Linked DNA regions of Homo sapiens: all the other regions are linked to region 2. The links come from fine-mapping of genetic effects on plasma protein levels. A gene starts in region 2. Each other region holds a variant in brackets. All regions are shown on one strand. Distances are between the middles of the regions. Region 1 has its middle 10 kb from the start of PLXNA1. Region 2 holds the start of CHCHD6 (coiled-coil-helix-coiled-coil-helix domain containing 6). Region 3 overlaps CHCHD6 (coiled-coil-helix-coiled-coil-helix domain containing 6).

The links. A credible set is the group of variants that fine-mapping cannot tell apart. PIP is the posterior inclusion probability: the model's chance that the variant is causal. The UK Biobank Pharma Proteomics Project read protein levels with antibody pairs (Olink). The fine-mapping took linkage between variants from a reference panel, not from the people measured, so its PIPs are less certain.
Region 1: its variant is the best candidate, but not a certain one, in a credible set for the plasma level of the CHCHD6 protein (UK Biobank, PIP 0.76).
Region 3: its variant is the best candidate, but not a certain one, in a credible set for the plasma level of the CHCHD6 protein (UK Biobank, PIP 0.62). The variant lies in the coding sequence of CHCHD6. If it changes the protein, the assay may bind it differently, which can mimic a change of level.

The regions. Positions count from the first base shown.
Region 1 is chr3:126,969,703-126,975,634 of GRCh38, reverse strand. No RefSeq gene overlaps it. Among named protein-coding and RNA genes, the nearest start is that of PLXNA1, 10 kb to the left of the region's middle. The variant A/G (reference allele first, on the strand shown) is at 3,370.
Region 2 is chr3:126,701,688-126,707,619 of GRCh38, reverse strand. CHCHD6 (coiled-coil-helix-coiled-coil-helix domain containing 6) reads right to left here and starts at 3,380. Exons shown (of 8, transcript NM_032343.3): 1 at 3,221-3,380. The coding sequence starts at 3,307. RefSeq lists enhancers at 2,129-2,680, 3,741-3,800 and a silencer at 2,991-3,190.
Region 3 is chr3:126,953,733-126,959,664 of GRCh38, reverse strand. CHCHD6 (coiled-coil-helix-coiled-coil-helix domain containing 6) reads right to left here. Exons shown (of 8, transcript NM_032343.3): 7 at 2,114-2,249. Among named protein-coding and RNA genes, the nearest start is that of PLXNA1, 26 kb to the left of the region's middle. RefSeq lists an enhancer at 4,945-5,034. The variant A/G (reference allele first, on the strand shown) is at 2,194.

The DNA of each region.
Region 1 (5,932 bases), 270 kb before region 2:
TTGTACCAGAAAATACAATCAGCATACACCAATACTGGTATATGTTGAACAGGAAGGAATATCAGGATTACCTGATGAGGCTTTTAAAGCAGCCATCCTAAAGGTGCTTTGATGAGCAATTATGAACATGCTTGAAACAAATGAAAATAAAGAATGTTTCAGCAAGGAAATAGAAGTTATAAAGAGAACCAAATGGACACTTTAGAATTTTTTAAAAACATACAATAATCAGAATAAAAACTTAATCGATAACTCCAAAGCAGAACAGAGGGGACAAAGGAAAGATGCAGTGAACCTGGAGATAGAGCAATATAAACCACCCAGTCTGAAACAGAGAGAAAATAGACTAGGGGTGGGAGAAAAGAGTTCTCTGAGAGATAACAAAAGATCTAATATTCATGTCATCTAATTGCCAGGAGGAGAAGAGAAAGAGGACAAAGCCGAAAAAATATTGAAGAAGCAATCTCCTAAACTTGGCAAAAGACATAAATGTAAGGATTTAAGAAGCTGAATGAACTCCAAACGTTATAAACCCAAGGAAATCCACACCAAGACATATCACAGTCAGACTTCCAAAAACTAAACAACAACAAACCCCAATTTTGAAAGCAGCCACGTAACCACCTTCCAAAAAACATGGATGTCTCATCAGAAAGCATGGAGGCAAGAAATAAGTGGAACGTTTTTAAGTGCCATAAGAAAAGAGCTGTCAACCATAAATTCTATACCCAGTGAAACTATCCCTCAGGAATGAGGAGGAATCAAGACCTTCTCAGGTGAAGGGAAAAGTAAGTTTGTTGCCAGCAAACCTACTGTGAAAGGAGGGCCAAAGGAAGTTCTTCTCATGGAAAGAAAGTGATAAGGAAGGAATCTTGAGACATCAGGAAGAAAGTACAATGGAAAGAGCAAAACTATGGGTAAATACAATGGACCCCTTCTCTGAAGGTTTCTAAGTTACATTTGGTGGTTGAAGCAAAAATTATAGCATTGTCGAATGTCTCAATGTATGTAGAAAAAATATTTAGGATAATTATATTATAAATGGAAGGGGAAAAGGGACACAAAGAGAGGGAAGCTTTCTACATGTCACTCGAAATGGTAAAATGTTGATGGCAGTAGACTGTGATAAGTACATATGTATAATGCAGTATGGCAGCCACTAGAAATCTATACAAAGATATACACTAAAAACACTGTACAAAAACCAAAATAGATGCTTAAATATGTCCAAGTAACACTCAGCAAGGCAAAAAAAAGAAAATAGAGAAACACCACCACCAACAAACACAGGAACAAACAAAGCAAAAAATAAAACAGCAGACTGAAGTTATGTCAGTAATTACAGAAAATGTAAATGGCATAATTCCATTTATATAACATTTTTGAAATAACAAAATCATAGAGATGGAGAGGAGATTGGCGGCTGCCAGGAGCTGGGGTAGGGGGGTGATTGTCACTGTGAAAGGGAGTACCAGGGGGTCTCCATGGAGAGGGAACAGCTCTGTATCCTGGTTACAGGGACAGAAACATGGATCTCCATGTGTGATAAAGTGACACAGGGCTTGACACCCTTGTCACACCAGTGCCAATGTCCCTTTTCTGATGTGTGGTGGTTATGTAGAATGTGACCATTGGGGGAAACTGGGTGAAGGGTACACAGGCTTCTCTCTCTATTATCTTTCCAACTTCCTGTGAATCTGTAATTGTTACAGATTATCATTATTTCAATATAAAAAGTTAAAAAAAATACCTTTGCTGTTGCTCTTACACCAGCACCAACTCCACTGCTGGCGTTTCCTCTTGGGCAGAACCAGTGCCCTGTGCACCCCCATAGAGCTCACAGGCCAGCAGGCCTCTGGGGGCCATACCCAGCAGAGGCCATCACAGCAATCCTGGGCTGGGCTGCCTGGTCCCAGCTCCCAGAGCCATCTCTTCCTTCTCCAGGCCTCAGAGCTCATATCACCTCTTCAGAGGAGCCCCGATTGATTCCCTGATGGAAAATGCATCCCAGTCCCATTTAACCAACTGATAGTCTCTGGTCCATTCAGCTGTTTATTATTCCGGCCCCACAAATAGCAGCTCTGCAAGCCAGGGAGCCCATCTTCTCAGGGGCACAGAGCCTGGTGCCAGGCAGAGCATCCATCAGGGGCTGTGGGGGTGCAGTTGCTATCAGTTGCTGCAGCATCACAAGTCGCCCTAAAATGTAGTGGCTTCAGCCAGTAGCTGCTCTTCTCTCTTATGGTCTCTGCAGGGAATTCAGAGAGGACAGTGGGAAAGGCTGGTCTCTGTCCCAGTGTCCGAGGCCTCAGCTGGGACTTGCACAGGCTGCAGCTCCTCACCCACCTGTCTGGCAAGACTCCCCTGGGGCGGGGCTCTTTGGCAGCTCTGTCTAGCTCTGTGGGGCCTTTCCACAGCCTCTCCAGCATGGTGGCTTCAGGGCAGCCGACCTTCTTATGTGTCCATGCACAGCTCCCATCCAGGGGGGCAGGGAGAGGAAGTACAGAGGAGGAGAAGCGGGGGTTTGGGGCTCAGAAGCCTGGAGGGCACCACCGCTGGGCTACGCTGCATCAGGCAGATTGGTGACAAGCCCCATGGCTCTCCAGGGAACAGAGCACAGCCCCCTCTTCTGGCAGGGGTGACAGGCCCACTGTGCATTGCAAAGCCCTGCAGGACGGATGTGCAGGGGAGGCAGTCTTTGGAAAACACAATCTGCCACCTGACCAGCAGCAGGCTGCCTCCAGGGGCCTGAGCTGCTAGCCTTGGATTCCAGCCCCAGCCATGGAGAGCCTGCTGGGAGCCCCCTACCCACCCCCAGCCCCATGCATGCCTCTTTGCAGCAGCCTGCACTATTGATGGGTTGGTGCATGGGTGGGAGTGGAGCTGGAAAGGGAGGGTGGGAGTTTGGGGATCTCTTCTAACCGCCATGCCATACTCTGCCTCAGCCCTATGGAGCAACCCTGGCCCAGCGGGGAATGCCACCATGGCAGCTGGGGGCTCATCTGAAGGAGCACAGGGTTTGAAGGCAGCAACATGGGGTCCCCTCCCGACACCATCCCTCAGTGCCTTTTCGGGACCACACCACAAATCACGTGGCCCTGGGGTCTCTGTGAGGACCAGAGCAAAGAAATTTGAAGGGCCGGCCCTATGCCAGGTTCCCCAAGGCATCTTGACCACCGGGTGGGTGGGGAGGGGCCACGACTGCCCCCTTTACATGGATGAGGAAACCAAGGCATGAAGAAGTGACAGGCCCCAGGGGCATACTTGGCAACTGCTCTGGACAGCCACAGACGGAGCCACAGAGGCCCCCGGAGGAAGCAGAGAGTCGCCCTCCCCCTGCCAGCCTCTCTTCCTACCCTACCCCCACCCTCC[A/G]TCACGGGGGTGCTTTGTGCTTTCCCCGGTTCACCACGAGCTTTGCACATGATGCTTGTTCTGCTCCTCTGTTCTGGAGACAGAGGGAACAACTTATTTCCCCTGAGGTCACCCTGCTGACCTTCCTCCAGCCCCCGCACAGGCTCCTCCTCTTCTGGGAAGCCTGCCTTGAAGCACCCGCCCACCCGGCCTGGGTTGGGAGCAGCTGCAGCTCACCACAGGGCATCACCCCTTGTCCTGGGCCTGCGTCAGAAGCAGAGGTGTCCCGAGGCCCTGGTGTTGCCAGCATGGTCTGCATTCCACAGAAAATGCGCAGGCAGAACCAGCCCAGCTCTCCTGTGCCCTCAGAAGCCCAGGCCAACCGAGTTGCCCACCCTTCCTGGGCACGTGGTGTGCCAGGTACCAGCCCCAGGGACGCAGGCCCACTGAGGAGGGGGCAGCAGGGCAGCGAAGGGAGGAGCTGGACCTGAACACACAGCACCTAGCTCCAAGCCCCATGGCCTGGAGACCCCATCCAGATGGCAGAGCTTTTTGGGCTCAAGGAATAAACACCAAAATGTTTAAAATATTTAAACATTTAAACATTTAACAGCCAAAGCTAGGTGCAGTGGCATGCGACTGCAGTCCCAGCTACTTGGGAGGCTGAGGGGGGAGGATCACTTGAATTCAGGAGGTTGACTCCAGCCTGGACAACACAGTGTGACTCCATCTTTAAAAACTGAAAAATATGTATATGTTTAACAGCCAGTCAGAGTAGACACCGGACATAAACCATGGGCAGGACAGCACCGGAGGAAGCTGGCTGAAACCCGGCTTTGCTTCATCCCAAGGGACATTCATCAATGTGCTTCCCTGTCTGGCTTCAGGCAGGGCTGAATCCGGGGACTCCCATAATGTCACCAGGCATCTATTTCTTGGTTTCACCTTCCTCTGTGTGCATTCCCAGGTGTGGTGTCCCTACCTGACCCTTTGCTGCAGCCACTAGGAGGAAAATACAAGAGACTTTCCCCAACCTGGAACAGATGCTAGCAGTCTCCCCAACTTACAGCTGCACTCACCTCTCAACTTCACACTATAAGGTGGGGATGGTGTGGGGACAATTGCTCTGATATCACAGCCACCGCCGCCCCAAGTACACTTTACCCTTTGAGTTGTCTGGCCTTTTTTTTTTTTTAAGATGTTTTAATTATTAAAATATATGCTCGTTGTAAAAAAAAAATCCAAGAAATGCATAAAAGGATACAATGAAGTCGGCCTCCCTCCAGCACCTGCCCCCAGCTCACCAGAGCAAAAACTGATATGGGTGTCTCCTGTGTCCATGAAGAGACGTATACACTGTGTCCAACGTGCAGATACAGAGGGACATCCTGCCTCTCTGCAAAAAAACATACAAACTAAGAGCTGCTTTTAGATAGATCTCTCTCTCCTCCCTTCTTTCCTTCCTTTTTCCTTTCCCTTCTCCCTCTCTCCTTCTTATTTCCTTCACATACAATGCAGTCCCCAATCCTTAGGCACACAGCTCAATGAATGCATCTTTACACTTCTACACAAATACATGTGTAATCTCCACAAAACAAAGGTTCCTTCTGACCCCACCCCTCGCCCCCCAGAGAACCCCTATCCAGACTCCTTCACCATAGGTTAGTTTTGCCTATCTTTGAACTTCATATAAACAGACCCATCCAGTACCATGGCAGACATACTCCAGGTCTCCCATGAGTCAGATCTCTATAATCCCCCCCACCTTAAGTGTGTGACTTGCTTCCAAGCAATAGATTGGGCAAATGTGAAGGCATGTCCCTCTCATGATTATGTTACACATACAAGGGATCTCTTTGCTGGCAATGGAGAGTCTGTGAGCAAGTCTCCAGGCAGGGGACGACTGGTGGCCTCTAGCTGAGCTGATAGCAAAAAGACAGCCCATCGATCCTCCAGCAAGATAATGAATTCTGCCAATATCCAGGTGAGCTTGAATGAGGAGCCTGAGCTGCAGAGAGGAACCCAGGCTAGCCACATCTGGAGGGCAGTCTTGGACCTCGCTGCACCACACCAGAGCTCTGACCCACGGAAAGCAGGGGACAGACATATATTGCTGCAAGTGACTGTTTGTGGTCATTAGTTAGGAGGCAGCAGAAAGCTAATACAACCGTGAATTTTTCTGTATCTGCCTCTGTCTCTCACCGCGAGGTGTCTGAGAGATCCATCCATGTTGCTACAGGGAGCTCGAGTGTGTTCTTTTTCGTGATGCTGTAGTATTTCATCGTGTGAATAAACTACAACTTAACCATTCTACTTTCCATGGGCACTTGGGTTATTTTAACCTTGTGGCTGTGATGAGTAAGGCTCTATGAACATTCTTGTGCGTACTATTTAGAGGACATACATATTCATTCTCTTGGGTATTAACTCAGGAGTAAGATTGCTGCATCGCAGTGTAGGCGAATGTTTAACTTTGTAAGGAACTGGCAAGCCATTTTCCGAAGCAACTGTCATCCTTTCATACTCCTCACAGCAGCAGTGAGCCCCCGGGGGTTGCTCCTTCTCACTGACGCTGGGTATTGCC
Region 2 (5,932 bases):
GGCTGGTGAACAGTGAGCAGTCTGGATGCTCACAAGCAACCAACATCAGCTGAATCACCAAAAAGGGCGGCTCATGTGGAGAGGAGGAGAGGGAAGGCAGACACATATGCGCCATGACTGCCATGTGTGCCTTCTCTTACTGAAGGATGAGGTTAAATGTACTGGTTAAAACAAAATCTTTACGTATTTCACACATTTGCTCTGAAAACTGGAGTTGAATATAACTGCAGCATTTTGCATTCATTAAATTTCTTTTACCTTCCATGGAATTACGGTTTGAACACACTTTGTGAATTTATGCAAACTAAGTATGTAAACTAGCAAGGCCTAGCACTTAATCTTTTTTTTTTTTTTTTTTAAGACGGAGTCTCTGTCACCCAGGCTGGAGGACACTGGCATAATCTCGGCTCACTGCAACCTCCCCCTCCTGGGTTCAAGGATTCTCCTACCTCAGCCTCCCAAGTAGCTGGGTGTACAGGTGTGTGCCACCATGCCCAGCTAACTTTTGTATTTTTGGTAGAGGCAGGGTTTCACCATGTTGGCCAGACTGGTCTTTAACTCCTGACCTCAGGTGATCTGCCCACTTCGGCCTCCCAAAGTGCTGAAATTACAGGCATGAGCCACCACTACCAGCCACTAACACTTAATCTTACAGGGACGAGAACACTTTCTAAGACCAGGCCTCAGGAATTAAATACAAATGGTCATTAAGAATATTCAACTTGCTCTAAAGAAGCTGGGGCAGATCTTCTTTGGCATCTGCTTCTCATTAAATGAACTGATTTGTTCCCTTTGGCAACTGTTTTGTTGATCTGGCAATCTTTTTCACTCACTTGCCTAAAGACAAGGTGAATTCCTCAACCCTCAAGTAACTCTGCTAACAGAAAAAGCCTCTACACCAAAACATCCTTTCTTCATACCATCACCTCCTTTCTTCAGTTTTCCTCTTTCAAACACAAGCAGAAGGAAGGACGTGGCTCTCATAACGTGGGGCTGTGCACCTTACTGTGCACCTCTGGACAAGTCATTTATCCTCTCTGATTAGTTTGCCCAGCTGGAAAAGAAAGCAGTCAGTCACCAAAGTTCCTTCCAGTTTTAAAACTAAGTGGGGCACTATCATCCCTGTCAGGACAGGTATGGGTATTGTCACAAAATTTTCAGGCTGCCTTGCATACATCATGGGGGGGAATTGCAGAAGTGAGAAAAAGTTGCTTTTTGCACCGAAAAGATCTTAATTAAAGTCCCAGAAGTTACTCAGGTTAACACCTTGGGCAAATTCCTTAACTCCTTTAAGCTCAATTCTCCATCTTTAAATACAGAGAATTTATATGTTGCAGAAGTATTTAAGAGAACTAGAAATGAAATGTACCTGTCTTATATAATACTCAAAAAACATGAGGTTTCCAATCAACTTGAAAGAAGGCACCCCCAAAGGCACTCCCCTGAACCTCTGAGGACTCCAACTTAACTTTCCAACATTCCCCAAAACAGGAGACCAAATCACAAGGGTGAGAGCACCCAAACAGAGCCAAGCTTATCTTTCTAAATTCCAATTCAGGTTCCTCCCTCTCGGCCTTCCAACACAAGCCATCTCCTCCCCCATTTAATCCTTGCCACGAGTGAGGTCCACAAAACTATACAACGCCTAGCAAGCACCAAATGTGCCAAGTACTCTGCTAGGCTAAGAAGAGAGGCCTCCACAAAGCACTCTCTCTGTGCGTTTCCTTAACACTTTCACAGACATCATCTTATCCTAGGCAGTACCTAGGATACATACACACCCAATTTTTTTTTTAATGTGGCCATTGAGGCTCAAAAGAGTTTTTTACCCAAGGTCACACAGCTAATGAGCACCTGCCAGAACTCCTGAAGTCTGTCTTTCTAAGCCACCTCCCTAATTCCTCCTTAATTAACTAATTCATCTACACCCAGCTCTGTGCGTTTCATTTAATCCTAGTCCCTTTTACTGGGTTCATTCATCTCTCCACAGTTACTTACAAAGCACCTGCAGGTGTAGACACAGGTGGAGGAAGAGGCCGAGCACAGCAACATGCCCTGGAATTGGCTTGTTTCAATCCCAGCTCTCCCACTTACTATTTACATGATCTTGGATCAGTTCGTTCACCTCTCAGTGCCTCACTTCTCCTTAATCTACAATAATGGGCTAAATAGGGCTGTTGAAAATTAAATCAGTTAACTTATAAAGGGTTTAGTCCAACGCATGGCCCCTACACTGCAATAAGAGCTGCTTTTATTCTTCTGGGTTCTGGGGACAGTCTTCAATCAGACAGGAACCTTAGCCTCAAAAAGCTTACACTCTAGCAGTAAACGCAATAAACAAGTAAACAATTATCAACAGAAGCGATCACTGTGATGAGTGCTATGAAAATAATAAATGTTGGACGCGGGGTGGGAGGTTACTTCAGATTGGGTGGTCAGGGAAGGATTCTCTGGTGATATCTGAATTACAACAAGAATTACAAGAAACAGCGGGATTTAAGGAGAGCTGAAGGAGAGAGAACAGCCGGCGCACAGACCCTGAGCTGAGCCAGCGGCACCCTCCAGGAAAACACGGCGGTCCTGAGGCTGGGGACGAGGTGCGGGTGCCACGCGAGGGAAATGGCACGAGATGCAGTCCCAGAGGGATGCAGTCCCCAGAGGTCGACGGGCAGCGGCCAGCTTTGGAACCAGGGAAGGCATCATCCAAGCGCGCTAGGAACCCACTGGAGGGTTTCAGGCAAGGAAGGGGATCAGATCTGAGCTATGGTTCTTCCTGCGCCCCGCAGATGTGCTGTGGAGAACAGGCCGGCGGGGAAGAGCTGAGTCCCCAGGCAAAGCCCAGGTGGGAGACACCGCGTACCCAGAACGAGATGCGCGCACCTGAGGGGCCACGGGCTGGGAGGCCGGGCGCAAATTCAAGAAACGTAAAAACTAAGCCGACCGGAGCCAGGACGTGGCCAGGGCGTCCCTCGTGTCCCAGGGGCCTCGCACCTGTACAGTTCTTCACTCCTCCTTCCCTGAAGCCCATGTCGCGAAGCTCCAAGGCTGCCAGCCTCGGGCTCGCGTCTCGGCTCAGCCTCTTCCTGGCCTGAGCCCCCGGAGTCTCCCAAGCCCCACGCCCCTCACGCGTGGAAAGAGCCCCGGCCCTGCGCTCCGCCCCGCACCTCCCCCCCGCGCCCGCGGCCTCCACGCCCGCCCCGGCCCAGGCGGCGCCGCTCACCCGGACACCCTGCAGCACCCGGACCCGCTCCTCCTCGTCCACTCCGAAGGACACCCTGCGGCCCTCGCTGCTCTCCGTGCTCCCCATGGCGAGATGCCGCAGGGCCGGCAGCCACCAGACCCGAGACCCGGCTCCAGAGCAACCGGGCCAACAACGCTTTCCAGGACTCGCGCGGCCGCGGCACACGCCAACAAAGCCACGTCCTATTGGCCGACGCCAGAGGCTTCACCAATCGGGTGGCGCTGAGTCGCGGTGCCTTGTGGGGATTGCAGTCCTTCCGTCTGGAGGGGTGGGGGCGTGGCGGTCTGTGCCTGCTAGAGTGCGTTAGGCTGAGGCCGAAGATGTGTACCGGCGGAGGCCCTGGAGTGGAGGGCTGGGTGCAGGACAGGGTCACGTTCTCGCTTTGGGAGCTCCCCCTTGAGGGAGAGCCAAGGGTGATGTTCTGAGGCCAGGAGACGCCGAGACGGCCAAGGCGCTCATCTGGAGGCGAATTTCTGAGGGTTCACTGCTCCATTCATTCAGCAAACACGTGTAGAGCAGCACGGGCTGAGCGCCAGACGAGCAGGGACCTGGCCCTGGCATTACAGCGCCCCTCAAGACAGCGAGTGTCCTGCCCTTGAGAGGTTTACAGTGCAAGGGGAAAACAAGTGAAAAGCCAAACACGCACGCAAGGAAACTGACTGTAATACACGGAAAACTGCATGGCGATGCCACTAGTAAAATGAACAGAAGGAGGCCTCTTTTAATTTCAGTGGCCAGAGCAACCTCTGAGGAAGAAGCTTTGAACTGAGCCGGCGGGAGAGTAGGATTTATGTAGAAAAAGGTAGGGGAAGAGGTTTCCTGGGAGTCTCAGGCAGGAAAAGAGAAAGAGGGGTCATCCCATGGCTGGAAAGTGAGAAGAGGGCAGAGGAGTGGTGAGGACCCAAATCATGTCGGGTCTTGTGAGGCAGGGTCTGAGTGTGGGTTTTATTCTAAACGCCCCGGGAGGACAGGGAATGGTCCTAAGCCGTTAGGAGGCATTGCCCAAGGAGTGTACATACCATGTGTGGAGTGCAGTGTGCCAGGCATTGTGTGTAGGCTTCTTACACAGGACCCTATGTGTAAGGGAGCACACAGACGGTTGCCAGTCATAGACACTGCTACCTTCAAATAAGCCCCTTTTTGTTCCTCTGAGTTGCTGAATGGCTTTGATTTGCAAAAGTGCGCCTGAAGCCGAGCTGAGGAAAACTAGATGGCTACATGAAATAGCCAGAAAATATTTGGAGCTCCTATTGGCAACCTGGAAAGAAAGGGGTGAGGAGGAGAGAATGATTGAGAGAGAGCAGTAAGGCTCTGAGATTGAGAATAGCTCAGGGTGAAGAAGCTAGTAAACATCCCAGAGCTGGTGTGACGATGGAATCTTTAGGAACAAAGGTGTCTGCTAGTTTCATTCAAAATACTTCATTGGCGCACCCCACTCCATCACCTCTGTCGTCCATTTCTTCCCTATAAGCAGAGCCTGCGTAGGGGATTCTGGTGCAAGGAGTTTCCTGGGGGAGCACCTCAGGAGAAAGGAAGTTAGGGAGACAGGCTAAGAGGGGTGGGGACCGGGGGCCGCGGGGAAAACTGAGTAAAGATGTGGTCAGACCTGGTCCTGGGCTTTCCTTTGTCTCTTTTCCTTGGAGGTTTATGATTACTAATTCAATCTCCTTACTCGTTATTGGTCTGTTCAGATTTTCTGTTTCTTCAAGACTCAGTTTGGATAGATGGTATGTTTCTGGGAATTCGTCCATTTCTCCTAAATTATCCAGTTTCTTGGTGTATAATTGTTCATAGTAGTTGATTATGATCTTTTGTATTTCTGTGATATCAGTTGTAATGTCTCCTCTTTCATTTATACTTTTGTTTATGTGAATTACCTTTTTTCTTGGTTAGTCTAGCTAAGGTTTGTTAATTTTGTTGATCTTTACTGTTGATCTTTTCTGTTGTTTTTCTAGTTTCTATTTCTGCTCTCATCTTTTTTATTTCCTTCAGTCTGCTGACTTTGGGGCTTAGTTTGTTCCTCTTCTAGTTCCTTGAGATATAAAATTAGGTTGTTTGATGTCTTTCTTTTTTCTTAATGTAGGTATTTTTCGCTATAAACTTCCCTCTTAAAAATGTTTCTATTGCATCCTATAAGTTGTGGTACCTTGTGTTTCCATTTTCATTTGTCTCAAGATACTTGTTTATTCCCCTTTTGATTTATTCTTTGGCTCATTGGCTGTTCAGGAATGTGTTGTTTAATTTCCGCACATGTGTGAATTTTCCAAAGTTCTTCCTATTACTGATTTCTGACAACAAACTATTCAAAAAGAAATTAAGAAAATGATCCCACTTACAATAACACCAAAAAGAATAAAATATGAATAAATTTAACCAAGGAGGTGAAAGAAAGATGCACACAAAAAATTGCACACTAAAAATTATAAGACACTGTTGAAAGATACTATAGGAGACATAAATAAGTAGAAAGATAGCCTGTGTTTATAGATCAGAAGAATTAATATTGTTAAAATGGCTTTACTACCCAAAGTAATCTACACATTCAATGTCATCATTATCAAAATTCTAATGACATTTTTCACATAAATAGAAAAAACAATTCTAACATTTCATATGGAACCACAAAAGACCCCAAATCATCAAAGCAATCTTGAGAAAGAAGCAGAAAGCTGAAGGCATCATACTCCCTGA
Region 3 (5,932 bases), 250 kb before region 2:
GGCATCACCTACCTGCCCTAGGAGCCCCAGGGCAGATGTTAGATCCTGGAGAGAGAAGCAGTGCTGCCCCACCCCAAGGCCCTTGACCATGTGGGCCTCTGTCCCCTGCTGTTTGGCCCCTTGCATAAGCAAATCCCTCTTAGGGACCCTTCACTCCCCGCTCTCTGGTTCTGCCAGCAGCCTTCTGAGGCGAAGGCTGGCGAAGGGTGGTGAGAGTTTCTCCAGCACTTGCCACATCTCACACACAGGGCACCACCCAAGTGCCTGGGTGCTGGGGCTCCGAGGGAGTCAGGTTGAATATGCCGTCTCCAAATGCACACACACTGCCAAGGCAGCACGTGGGGAGAGCAGGCAGGCCTCTGGCACTGCCATTGCTCAGTCTCTGGTTTCTTTGCTAGTCATGTCAGGGGTAGGGGCCGGGAAGGAGGGAGCCAGACCTGGCAGTGTCCCAGAGCCTCTCTCAGGGAATACACTGGGGTTTAATGTGATCTGTCTTCCTTGGTAATCACATTTTTGCCTTGGTGCGAGGAAGATATATTGGTGAGGTGTGTTTGTTAAAGAAATACTCTTAGGGGTGGTGGGTAGGGGCTGAAAACTACCACAGAGGTGGGGCTGGATGGAGAGAGGATGGAGTCTAGGGCTGGCCACTGAGGCGTAGGCCCTGCCAGGAAGCCAAGAGGCTGCAGCAGATCCCTCGGTAAAGAGTTAGGTGTGTGATGAACAGAGACTCGGAGCTGCCCTTGATTGGGTGTGTGGAGGATCTGGAGGCTTCACTTTGCTGGTGAGTAGGGAGCTAAGTGTCTGGTCGGTGCGAAGGGCCCTGGTCTGGCCCAGCCTACCCAGTGCCCCAGCGCCTCCTGCCCACGTGGAAGCAGAGTGAGCAGCCTTCCATCCTCTGAGATGGAGGAGGAGGCCGCCTGTCCTACCCAGGGCTTCCCTCTCTTGGAAGGCTGACAGAGGCCTTGCGACCACTCATCCTGTGTGGAGCTACTTCTGGGCTGTGTTCTGGCCATGAAGGGACAGTCGGTGCTGGACGGGGCTGTGACCAGCAAAGAGTGGAACAATCAGCCTTGGCAGATGGGTGTGAGCAGGGCATGACCCAAGGAAGCTCTTGCAGGCCTGGGGCTGCAGGACCCCGCTCAGTTCAGTGGGACAGATCTCCCCTTGGACATGGCTGGAGAGCACAGAGCATCTGGCCTCAGCCTTTTCCATCCCAAGTACCTAAAGCAGCCTGTCTCCTACTCAGGCCAAAGAGGCTTTTACGTGGGAAAGGAGACCTCGTCCTGTTGTTTCTCCCATACATTTTCACAAACAGGCCGCACTCCTTGGGGAGCCCAAACTAGGTGTTCTGAGAGTGAATGATGCTCCCCAAGGTGGGAGCTGTCCTGTTGGGGTGGGGCAAGGGTGAGGTATGGCTGGGAACAGCCTGACTGCACCAGAGGACGCTACGGGACCTGGGAAGGGGGAGGACTTATCTAGGATAGAGAGCAGCAGTTGGGGGTGGGGGAGGAAGGCAGTAGGAGCTGGCTGGGAGCGCATCACAGGCATCCAGGACAACCGAGGCCCACTGGAGTGGGAGGTGACCAGAGAGCACATGAGGCTTGGGACCACTCACCAGGAAGGCCAAGCCAGCACACCCCTGTAGACCAGCTCAGGGCAGGGTGGCTGTGAGCAGCTTCTGATGGCCACATCTGCTCCCACTCCTCTTCCAGATGGCCTATCCTTGCTGGGACCCCCACTCTGCACTCGGGCCTCTGCCACCCTCCCACCCCTAAGTGCCGAGGGCTAAGAAGTCCCCGGCACCCACAAGGGGCCCGGCCCTTGAAGGTGGGGCCTGACTTTACCCAGCCTGCTCCCACCCAGCCTAATAGGGCAAACGCAACAGGGATCATCTCCCTGGGGCCAGATGTCCAAGGCGCTCCTGGAAGCAGCCAGGAGAGTGTGCAGGTGACTGAGGAAAGCGAAGAATCCCTCCCTTGGCAAATGCAGAGACCTCCAAGTGGAGCATCTGATTCTAACAGGAAAAGGCAGGCAGAGATCTCCAATGCTAGATAGAGGTACCTCGCCTACCTCCCAAGGCCCTTGGAAACCTGGGAGGCAGGCAAGGCCTTACCTTGTGGGCGGCGCTCACGCAGCGCTGGTATGCCTTGACCAGGTCCGAGCACAGCAGCACCTCATGCGGGCGATCTCGGT[A/G]GCAGTGGAGAATCTGGGCCTGCAACCCTGAGCAGACGGGCTCCACCCTGCGGGGCCTGCAGAAGACAAGAGCAGGCAGGCCTGGGGCTCAGGTGCCAGCAGGCAGGGGAGAGAAACAACTCACATTCACTCCACCTACCTCCCAGGCGCTAGGCTAAGTCCCTGACACCCAGCAGCATCCTTTTAACCCTCAAGGAGAAGCACTGTGCTTTCCCGTTCTAGAAATGAGAGGACGGTCGCAGGGTCAAGCCCTGTGGTGGGTGGCTTAGGCTCACAATATAGCAGACACTGAAACATGCTGTGGTATGGGGCTCCACACCGGGCTCCTTCACTGGGGCCTGTGTACACTCAGGAGACAGGAAAGCCCCACTGGAGGGCCCCCATGAGGATGGTGCAGCCCGCCTCCAGGACAACCCGCCCCGCTGTGCCCAGGATAGCCATCCCTTTATGCCTGAGACAGCCCGCCCCACTGTGCCCAGGATAGCCGTCAGCTGCTTTCCTGGGCTTTCCTGTGCCTGTGGTTTACCCGTGACTATAACCATGTGACTTATTTTTTTTCCTGATTTAAAACTAATATGCGTGCAATAAGGAAAATGAAATCTACAGAAATGTCTAAAGAAATGAAAAATGTTCTTTTTACTTCTTAGAGGTAACCATTATAATATTTTGGGGGTAATTTACTATTTTTTTCTTTCTTTTTCAAAGTAGTTTTAGAACCCACAAAAGTGAGTAAGTTCACTTTCTAAAGTTGTGGAAAAAAAGAGCAAATATAGATAAACTAAAGTCAGTCACTGGCCCAGCCTCCTGAGCGTAATTTTGGATTGGTTGGTCTCCTTCCAGATTTCTCTCTCTCTCTCTCTCTCTCTCTCTCGTGCGCACACTGACACACACAACAGCACATTCGTGCACTCCCTGCCAGCCAGGTGCTGTCCTCCGGCTGCTGGGCGTGCTCAGTGCTGCTCCTTACAGCTCTGGTAGCAGACACTATCGTTCATCATGCTGTTCACACAAATGAGGAAACTGAGGCTCAGAGAATTAAGGCCATGCAGCTGGACAGTGGAGGAGCGGGACATATTTATTTACATGGCTTTGGATGTACTGTTGCTGCTCATTTGTTTTCTTAAGTGGGTTTTAGGCCAGGACCCTTCCCAGCTGTAGACGGACCCACTGTAACACTTAACAGCCTTTCCAAATTGAACACCACTCACGGCTGAGGGCACCAAAAAGAGCTGTAAAAATGTAGAAAGCCATTCCTCAAGTTTCTTAGCAATAGAAAGGATCACTGTCACACATGCCACAGCTCCACTCCAGGTACGTGGAGAGAGAGATATGTAGGTCAGTTGCTCTCCCACCAGGGTCTCCAGAGCCGTTATCATCTAACGATAACTTGAACACAGTTCCTCAGCTAGAAACCACCAGCACCAGGATGCTCGACAGCTTGGGAACAGGACCCCATATTTAGCTGTCTTGCTCTGGAAGTCTGCGGGTGGACACTTCTGTACACTGCTGACTTAGCAGTGATGCCACCTGGGTCTGGTCTTCCCTTCTCGTCCATGTCATCCCCAGGCCACTGTATGCAGCGCAGTCCTCTCTGCAGCAGAGGTCAAAGGGAGCAGGGAGGAGCAGGTCTCTCTGCTGTCTCATCTGACTACGCGGGACAATGCTCCCCTCAAACCCCACTCCAGGTTTCTCCTCCACTCACTGTCTAGGACCAGGTCACATACCCATGCCTAACACCATCGCTAACATGAGCAGTGAGTGTCCCATGTTCAGCTAAGGCCAGCAAGACCCATCCCCAGGGCATGAACAAAACGAACAGTCCCTAAATTAAAGACGGGGAGGGATGAGTGTGGGGTGGGGTGCAGCCGCCTGTGACTGCCATGCCACACCAGCGCCAAGGTAAAGGATGTGAAGGGAGAGCACGCCTTCCCCTTCCTGCCAGGGGAGGCCATGGTGGCCCAGCCCTGGCCTGGGTCCTTGAATTCCACCCCATCCTAGCCATTGAGGTCACAATTCTGACTCAAGTCTGCATTGCATGCACCAAGTCTTAAAGGGTCCTCTTATTTCCTGAAGAGGACTGGGTGGGGGGGGTTTTATCTGCATTGACTTCTCGTTCTTACATATGCAGGGCAGATGAGCCCCTGGTGTGCAGTCCTCTGCCCAGCTCCGGAGACCCGCTTCACTGGCCTGCGTCAGCTGCCGCACAGGCGGCTGGGGCAAGAATACAGCTGGGGTGTCTGGGGCAGCCCCTGATTTGTCTCCAGGTGCTTAAGCACGGCTCCACATCTGTATTTAAGAACTGTGACATGGGTGTGTCTAGTTGTGGGCTTTTTAGGCTGCTTCTTCCTTGGGGGACGGCTGGCCTCATGGCATTTCGTCTCAGGCAGGTGTTCTCAGGGACTGCACATACAGCTTTGGTTCTGAGTGTTCTGACACCTGTTTTAGGAGCACTTTCAAGTCACAGGCCAGGCTCTCTGCCTCCATCGCAGAGGCCTCCCCTCCTGTTCTGCTCCCTGAGTCTCCAGCCTTAGAAGGCTGTGCTCTCCCCTCCCCAGGCAGGGTTAAATCTGCAGGGCAGTGGGTGCCTTCAGTGGCACTGCCAGTCTCCCTGGGCTCTCTCTTGTCACCTATACTGCTGTCCCCTCATACCAGCCTCTTGCTGTGTCTTCTGTTCCTCCTGACGGTGCTGGCCCTCTAGAGTCTGAGACCCCAGAGCATGACTTCCATCATAGCCTCTGCTGCACTCCCCTGAAGCAGGACCCCACCCTGCCCTCATGGGGCCCTGGTGAGCCTGGTTCCTGGCTGCACCGTGGAGGCCAGCAGGCACTGAGGGGACCTGTGTGTCATGGTGAGTGGCTCAGGGGAAGCCCCAGGCTTAGTCAGGGCAGAGCTGTCCTAAGCTGTAACTCTGTGAGGCTTACTGATCTATGTGAAAAGAGGTACCATAGACAGGACAGGCGGAGGCTAAGTGGCCCCAGCCTGAGTCATGTGGCTGAGCCTCATGGAGCTGGAGGGCTGACCTGCTGAGCCCTGCCCTCTACAGAGGCACAACAGAGACGCCGACACTTTGCAGAATGGCGATGTGCAGGAAGACACAGCCACATTTGCCCCTCTCCCCATGGTCAGCCTGGCTGTGTCCCCTCCTCACTGGCTTCTCCTACTTTAGTTTCAGGTCCCAGGACAAGGGCCTCTGCATTTTGAGGGCAAACCTCGCAGTGGGCTCCCAGTTTAGGAGAAACTGGGCCATGGCGAAATCTATCCCCTCCTTGCCAGTATCGCCCGTGGGACCATGACAGCCTCTCTCTCCTGGGACTTATCAGAACAATATGAGGAGACAGAATGGAAGGCAAATGTCAACTGGAAGAAATTTCACCCATTTGTCCACAAAAAGGCTCTGAATGGGATAAGACAGGGAGAGCATAGCTCTGGAAATGAAAAGCTTTCTCTGAAGCAAGGCAGGGCTAGGCCTTCGGTGAAGCCATTCACAAAAGTAGGTGCACTCTATCCACCCTGAACCCCTCCCAGCCCTGGCACACCATGACCCTGTTTACAATGCATACAAAACAGCTCCCATGTTCAGAAACATGGTCTTGCAAACAGCTACTCTTCACATGCACAGATAAAGGTATCCAAAGTGTGCCACAAACTTGCCAGGGATAGAAATAAGTCCTGTACCCCTGTGTAAGGACATTTCCTTGGAGAATGAAGATCTAATGGTCCATGTGGCTTCGAAGGGGTT